Homo sapiens: one gene and its partner. The protein of the gene in region 1 binds, or shares a complex with, the protein of each later gene. Each region holds a gene or a part of one and is shown on either strand. Other genes may lie near its edges.

Evidence for each region.
Region 2: RUVBL2 (region 1) and PDRG1 share a complex: the UniProt entries of both Homo sapiens proteins name them as parts of the PAQosome complex.

The regions. Positions count from the first base shown.
Region 1 is NC_000019.10:49,003,829-49,007,573, forward strand, and holds part of RUVBL2 (ruvB-like 2), read left to right. Parts: intron 1-378; exon of another isoform or gene 379-427; coding exon of another isoform or gene 428-448; coding exon 449-590; intron 591-3,189; coding exon 3,190-3,319; intron 3,320-3,473; coding exon 3,474-3,540; intron 3,541-3,745. UniProt on the Homo sapiens protein: Possesses single-stranded DNA-stimulated ATPase and ATP-dependent DNA helicase (5' to 3') activity; hexamerization is thought to be critical for ATP hydrolysis and adjacent subunits in the ring-like structure contribute to the ATPase activity.
Region 2 is NC_000020.11:31,950,213-31,953,957, reverse strand, and holds the start of PDRG1 (p53 and DNA damage-regulated protein 1), read left to right. Parts: upstream 1-1,911; 5' UTR 1,912-1,996; coding exon 1,997-2,083; intron 2,084-3,570; coding exon 3,571-3,646; intron 3,647-3,745. UniProt on the Homo sapiens protein: May play a role in chaperone-mediated protein folding.

The sequences.
Region 1 (3,745 bases):
GTTAGACTGGGTGCAATGGCTCACACTTGTAATCCCAATACTTTGGGAGGCTGAGATGGGAAGATTGCTTGAGCCTAAGAGCTTGAGGCCAGCCTGGGTAACATAGTGACACCTCCTTTCTACAAAAAATTTTAAAAATTAGCTGGACATGGTGGTGCACATTTGTGGTCCCAGCTACTCAAGAGGCTGAGGTGGAAGGATCTCTTGATCCCTAGAGGTCAAGGCTACAGTGAGCCATGATTGTACCACTGTACTTCAGCCTGGGTGACAGAGCGAGATCTTGTCTCAAAAAAAAAAAAAAAAAAAAAAAAAGCAGGGAAAGCTTTTTTGGCTTTTCCTAGAAGTCCCAGCTAGTAATGTCTGCTTCCATCTCACTAGCTTCCTGATGTGGTAGAAATGCCATGGTAGCCCCACAGGAAATCACCTCATGTGCGCCTCCCACCCACAGGCTTCGCAAGGCATGGTGGGTCAGCTGGCGGCACGGCGGGCGGCTGGCGTGGTGCTGGAGATGATCCGGGAAGGGAAGATTGCCGGTCGGGCAGTCCTTATTGCTGGCCAGCCGGGCACGGGGAAGACGGCCATCGCCATGGGTAAGAAACCTCCCAGGGCAGGAACTCTCCTGTTTCCTGCTAAATAACTCCTCCTGTGTAAGTCAGGGTCAGGATGAGCCGCCTTTAACAGATGACCCAAAATGGCAGTGGCTTAAACACTCAGGATTCATTCTTGCCCATGGAAGAATCTAGAGGTAGGCCATTTGGGGCTTATTAAGCAGTTCCAGGAAGTCTTCCATCTTCCTGCCTCACCATCCTCTGCACTTGGTTCCAGTCAAGAGGACGCCATGTTCCAAGAGGGCTGCCAGAGCTCCAGCCTTCCCACTCATAACCCAGGCAGCAGGAAGAAAGGAGTTGCCATGAGGATGAACCCCCTCGAGTTGGCTTCCTTTAAACAGTCATTGGAAATCCTCCATGCTTCTGCTTATATCTCATTATCTCATTGACTAGAATGTAATCATATGATCACACTCTGCTTCAGGGGAGGCTGGCACATTAAATGTTTTTTAAAATTTCATAATTTGGACCATTTTTGCCTTAAGAAAATGAGGATTCTTCTGTTGGGCAAAAGGTTGTTGTAAAAATAAAAAATTAAAAAAAAAAAAACAGGAAAGAAAATGAGGGTTCTAGAACTAAGGAAGAAGGGGAAGGTGGGTATTGAGGAGTCACCCAGCAGTCTTTGTTGCAGTCCGCTAGTGGTTTATGATCTTTTCACTCCCAGCTGTTCCTCTTCTTCCTTGTTGAACTCCTATTTATCCTTCAAAACCCTACTTCAGCATCTCTGCCCCATTGAAGCTTTTCCTAACCCACTGCTCTTCCCACTCACTCCCACCTCTGTGCTGAGGCTGGGGCCAGGCAGGGAGAATCAGAGTAACAGCCAGGTCTTCAGTGAAGATAAAGCAGTGCCTGTTGGGGTGCTCGGACTGGACACTGGGGACCCATAGATGAGTTAGACCAAGGCCTGACTTCAAAGAGCTCCTGGTCTGGAGGAGGTGGTCATGGACACGATCCCTTCCAAGGCGACATGTGTTACAATGCAGGTAGCATGTGACAGAGGAGGCTCCTGACCTTGGTAGGAAAACGGGGCATGTGGTGGCATTTGTTGCTAGAGGCTTCCAGAGAAGCGGATACCTGAGCTAAGCCTAGTAGGATGGCCAGGAGGCTCCTGGGCGGACACTGGGGACAGCATGTCCAGGCCCAGAATGTGGCACACACAGTAACTTCCTTCCCTCCATCCTTTCTGCTTTCCTACTCTTCTTCATTTTTTTTTTTTTTTGAGACAGTTTCACTCTGTCGCTCAGGCTGGAGTGCAGTGGTGTGATCTTCGCTCACTGCAACCTCTGCCTCCTGGGTTCAAGTGATCCTCCTGCCTCAACCTCCCAAGTAGCTGGGATTACAGATGTGTGCCACCACACCCAACTGATTTTTGTATTTTTAGTAGAAATGGGATTTCACCATGTTGACCAGGCTGGTCCCGAACTCCTGACCTCAGGTGATCCACCCCCCTGCCTCGGCCTCCCAAAGTGCTGGGATTACAGGCGGGAGCCTGTAGACTTTATTTTTTAGGCATGTTGTGACTGTGCCCGGCCTCGCCTTTCCTCTTCTTGTGTCTCCCGCAGGCCTCCTGCAGGCCAAACCCTGTGCTGGGCAGCACTGGGGTGAGGCTAGCCTCGCCCTGGCGGGGACGCTTCTTAGTCTAGTGAAAGAGGCAGAGAGGACCCCTGGTGTCCCCAGATGGCATGGGCCGTGCTCGTCCACTCAGCCCTCAGCAGATACTTGCTGAGTTCTGTGATGAGGGCCATTGTGTATCCGCAAAGAGGACTAAGAACAGGTCCCACTTGACACTGGGCAGGAGGGTGTGGTGTCAGCCTGTCTGAAAGGGCGTGCCCCACATTGGACCAAACCTTGTGGCCAGGGAACTGGAAGGAAAGGTCTGGCGTTCAGAGCTATTGCTGGAGACAGACCTGCTTCCTGCCAGCCACCCCAGGCCACCGGCGGTAGAGCGTCCTGCCCTGTGCCAGTTTCAGGCTGCGCAACCGTGTTACTGCTGAGCACCAGTGCCTGCCTGCCTGCCTGCCCATAGTCACTCCTAAGCAGGGTGTCATCCCATGCTGGCACGTGTTCTGTTATCATCCCCATTAGACAGAGGGGGAGACTGAGGCTCAGGGAGCAGTTCAGATCGCTCAAGATCCCACGGCGCCACCTGCACTTAAGTGGTGGATCTGGGATGGGAGCCGAGGCAGTCTGCCTTCATCACTTGTAGCTATCGTGTGGGCTCCTTGGCCTTCGTCCCTGGTCCCCTTCGTCCAGCTCTGAGGCTAAACAGCTCGTAGAGGCTGGGAGACTGAGGTGTGGCGAGGTTCTAGGGTGTACCCTCTGGGCAATGTGGGATTCTAAGCCAGGCCTGCCGGAGCAACCTGCCCTGCCTGGCTTCTCACTCACTGTCTGCCTCATGGCTGAACCCCGCTCTCCAGTTCCCCCTCCCCAGCGCTCTGCTCAGCTCGGAGCCAAGTCCTTACATGTAGGATGGCACTGAACCCTCTTTCCTGGGGTGGGAGAAAAGCTAGTTTGCCACAGAGCAGGTGTCGGGGACCTGGTGCCAGAGCGGCTTCACCTACACAGACTGCCTCCTTCCCAGGCATGGCGCAGGCCCTGGGCCCTGACACGCCATTCACAGCCATCGCCGGCAGTGAAATCTTCTCCCTGGAGATGAGCAAGACCGAGGCGCTGACGCAGGCCTTCCGGCGGTCCATCGGCGTTCGCATCAAGTAAGCGGGGGACCCGAGGCGGGTGCCAGACCCCAGAGCCTGGGAGCAACCCCGCACCCCGGGCGGCTCGTCCTTTGTCCCAGAGCTCATGGAAGGTTGTGATTCCCGAGGGTCCAGGTGTCAGGCTGTCTCCTCAGATCTGCTCTCTGGCTAGGGAGGAGACGGAGATCATCGAAGGGGAGGTGGTGGAGATCCAGATTGATCGACCAGCAACAGGGACGGTGAGTCTGTGTGAGTCTGTACCCTGCTGAGGCCACCTCCAGCGCCAGGGTTGGAGAGAGTAGATATCAGGTCTGCACTGAGGTCAGAATCCCATGGAATGTTCTAGCTGCAGACTAGAGCCATGTACATGCCTACAGTAGGAGGTCAGTTAACTTGACAATGGCTTATCCCCTTATGAAGGACATTATGGGCAATAGAAACTGA
Region 2 (3,745 bases), on another chromosome or scaffold:
CCCATCCAGGCCCATGTGGTAGGGGTCAAGGGTCAACCTGGTCCAGCCCTCTGTGGGTCCCAAGGTGGAGGAGACGCAGTGCTGGGGTCCAGGCCGAGGGATGCCTGGTGAGCCCCATTTCTGCTTTGGCAAACATCCCCCTTTCCTTCTCAGGGCCTGTGCCTGCATTTCTGAACCAGAAGGTGTTTATACAAAACATCCTGGGTTTGGCGACAAATTCACCCTCAGTGAGGAATCCTTAATGAATCTCCCTCCTTCCCCACACCAGGTGGCTGAAGGAAAAATTAGCTCTGCCTCTGGTAGTTGAAGGCAGCCAATGGCTAGGCAACATAGAGGTGCTGCTGGGGCTTCTGGGGCCACAATTTTTGGGGAGGGTTTTTTCAGGGTCCGGAAATGGCATGGACACCAGGCACTCCTGGCTTGCTGTGTGATGAGGCACTGCCTTTCTCCTGGCCTCAGTCTGCAGCTGTGAAATGGGGCAGTAATAATCCCATCCATACAAAGGTTGCTTTGACACTCAAGTAAGGCAAGGGGTGTGAAGGGGCTTGGTTACAAGAGGTCAAAAGGAGAGAATAAAACGCTGGAATCAGGGAGGCGAGACATCAGAGTGATAATATCGGTTCTGCTCTTTAGACTTTCAAAGTCCTTTCCCAGCGCCTTTTACAGCCATGTGGGCTCAATGCCTCCTTCCCTCTGACCTCCTGCCTGCTTCCCCCCCGCCCATTCTGTTCCACATACGCTGGCTGTTCCCTCTGCCTGGAACACTCTTCTCCTAGGCATCCACATGGCTCACCCCTCACCTTCTTTTCAAAGCCTTGCCTCTCTCTGAGGTTTGTTTTTTCCAGCTATCCAATGAGGAGTTTGGGCGTGAAGACCTCGTGGGAACCCTCTGGTTCTGATGGTAACCATTTTCCACCTGCCTGCCTTCTCTGGGAAGTCCTCCCAATCCTACCACCCACACCCACCTGCTTTTCTGAGCTAGCACTTCATTGCTTACTGCCCATAGTTTTCAAGTCCCTTCCTTATGTATAGGCCAGCTACTCTGGACATTGGGCCCAACACAGGGGCTCAAGTGAACTCTGGTTAAACGGAATTAAAAGTGATTACTGCTTCCTTTGTTTTTTGAGACAGAGTCTCGTTTTGTCACCCGGGCTGGAGTGCAGTGGTGCCATCATAGCTCAGGGCAGCCTCGACTCCCCAGATGCAGGTGCTCCTCCCGCCTCAGCCTCCTGAGTAGCTGGGACCAACGGGCGCGCCCCCCCTCACCCAGCTAATTTTTTTTTTTTGTATTTTTAGTAGAAACGGAGGTTTTACTGTGTTGCCCAAGCTGGTCTCGAACTCCTGGGCTCAAGTGATCCCCCCGCTTTGGCCTTCCAAAGTACTGGGATTACAGGCATGAGCCACTGCGCCCAGCTGATTCCTGCTTCCTTCCGATCCTGTGGAGAGACACTGAGGCGGATTTTTATTCACCCCCTTTTTATAAATTAGAAACTGAAAGTGTCAGAGATTAAACATAAGTCACACTGCCACATGGGCCTTCTTGGTGTTTCTTAGCCAGGGGAAGAATAATATTTCCCAGATCCTAATCACTACCTGCCACGGTATATAATTGTTTTGCCATTAATTGTCGGTGTTTCCCACTAGGATGAAGTTCCATGAGGGCAGGGATTTTGTTGTGTTCACTGCTGCATCCTAAGCACATAAAACTGCTTGGCACATAATAAGTGCTCAAGAAGCATGAACCGAGGGAGTAACGGGTCAGAGGCAGCCCGAGGACTGAGCTCTCTGAGCCTGCAGAGGGCGCTCCAGCCCCGCCCCCAAAGCTAGGCCCCGCCTCTCGCAGCCGGCTGGCGCACTAGTGTTAGAGCCTGCGCACCACCGTTCTTTTAACTGCGCAGGCGCGCCGGAAGCACCTAGAGAGCGGCGCGTGCGCAGCGGGAGTCGAAGCGGAGATCCCGGGGTCGCGCGAGAGCCGCAAGCGGAGTTGGTGGGCGCTATGCTATCACCCGAGGCAGAGCGAGTGCTGCGGTACCTTGTAGAAGTGGAGGAGCTCGCCGAGGAGGTGCTGGCGGACAAGCGGCAGGTGAGAGGCCCCTCCGCGGCGCTGGGGCCTGGCGGCCGGCGCCGTGGGAAAGCGCGCGGGGTCGCAGTGAGTTGACCTGGACAGGCGGTTAACGGCTCCGAGGCGACAGACCTGGGCCGATAAATATTCGGCCGCTACTAAGTGAGCGCCTGCGCTATGCTGGACATTCCTCTCTCTTCATCCTTTCTCTGCCCCTTGCCATGCTCTGTGGATCTCGACCCATCATGCTCTGGGCCGTTTCCCTGAGCACCTGTTTCAAAATGCACTTCCCGGCCCCATGGTTGATCTAGGGGCACCGCCCTGTAAAGGCCCTCAGGGGAGAGCTGGAACCGAAAAGAAGCCTGAGGGGGCCTTGTGACCGGGCAGGGGTGGGGACGTGGGGGAAGGTGGCGCCCTGTTTATGGGGTGTCTTGTTTTAAGTGCCAAGTTTTTGAGGGGAGTTCCTGGGGGAAGGAGGGTGACGTAATTGGATTTAGGTTTTAAAAGGATCCCCCCTGGCTGCTGTGTGGAATACAGAATATAGGTGGGCAAGGGCGGAGGCAGGGAGATGGGTGAGGGGCCATTGGTATGGTCCAGACCAGAGATGGATTTGGACTAGGTAGTGGTGGTGGAGAGAAGTGAAGGGGTCAGAAATGTATTTTGGAGACAGACTCAGTAGGCCGTGGTAGTGGAGCCGGGGGAGTCGTGACTCCCTCTCATCTCCAGTTAGAAGGGTCAGGTATTTACTGAGAAGGGGAAAACTTGGGCAAGATCCTGTCAAATTAAGTACTGGATCAGGGTGTGCTGGATGAGAATAAGAGCAGTTAAAGTTTATCAGCTACTTACTATGTGCCAGGTACTGTGTTAAGTCATTTAATTGCTGGCTCAATAACCTGTAAGGTAGGTACTGTCCGTAGCTCCATTTTGAGGAGGAGTAAATAGGAAGGTGAAATTACACAGCTTGAGGCAGATAGCAGGATTCGAACCTGGGTATTCCAAATCCAGAACCAGCACTCGTGCAGTATACTGTACTACTGCGTCACTTCCTTAGTAGCTATTGTGTTGTTACCACTGTCTCAGTGCCCCCAATCCTGCTGTTCCAATCTAGTATTGTTGGGTTTCTCATATTACTAGTTCAGAATCAGCTGGAGAAGTTTGTCCAAAAATAAACATTAGGCCTGCTTAATCACAGTGTGTAGGGGAAGGGTTTCCACTCCCCTGGTGATTCTGATATGCCCTAAAGTTCGAGTGGATAATGCAGAATTTCCCATTTAGTCAGCACATGTTTTCTCAGCATCTTTTCTGGGGAGAGGGCAGCTGCACAAAGCATTGTCTTTAAGACCAGGAAGCTGAGTGAGAGAAGAAATACATTCACACATCAATCCATTTTAGGCAGGACGTTGAATGTAATCAGGAATAATGCATTGCCTCTGCAACCCTTGTCTGTCAAGAGGTGACAGCTTGGGGCAAGAGATAGCTGAGTTCCCTCCTGTCCCTGTGGTTTTCAGATTGTGGACCTGGACACTAAAAGGAATCAGAATCGAGAGGGCCTGAGGGCCCTGCAGAAGGATCTCAGCCTCTCTGGTAAGTTGAAATTTTCTCAGTGCAGCCCTGGAGGCCTGTTCCGTTTTCCTTTAAGGCCTTTACCTTGTTCCTGATAGAGATCAGGCAGGAGGTCACAGC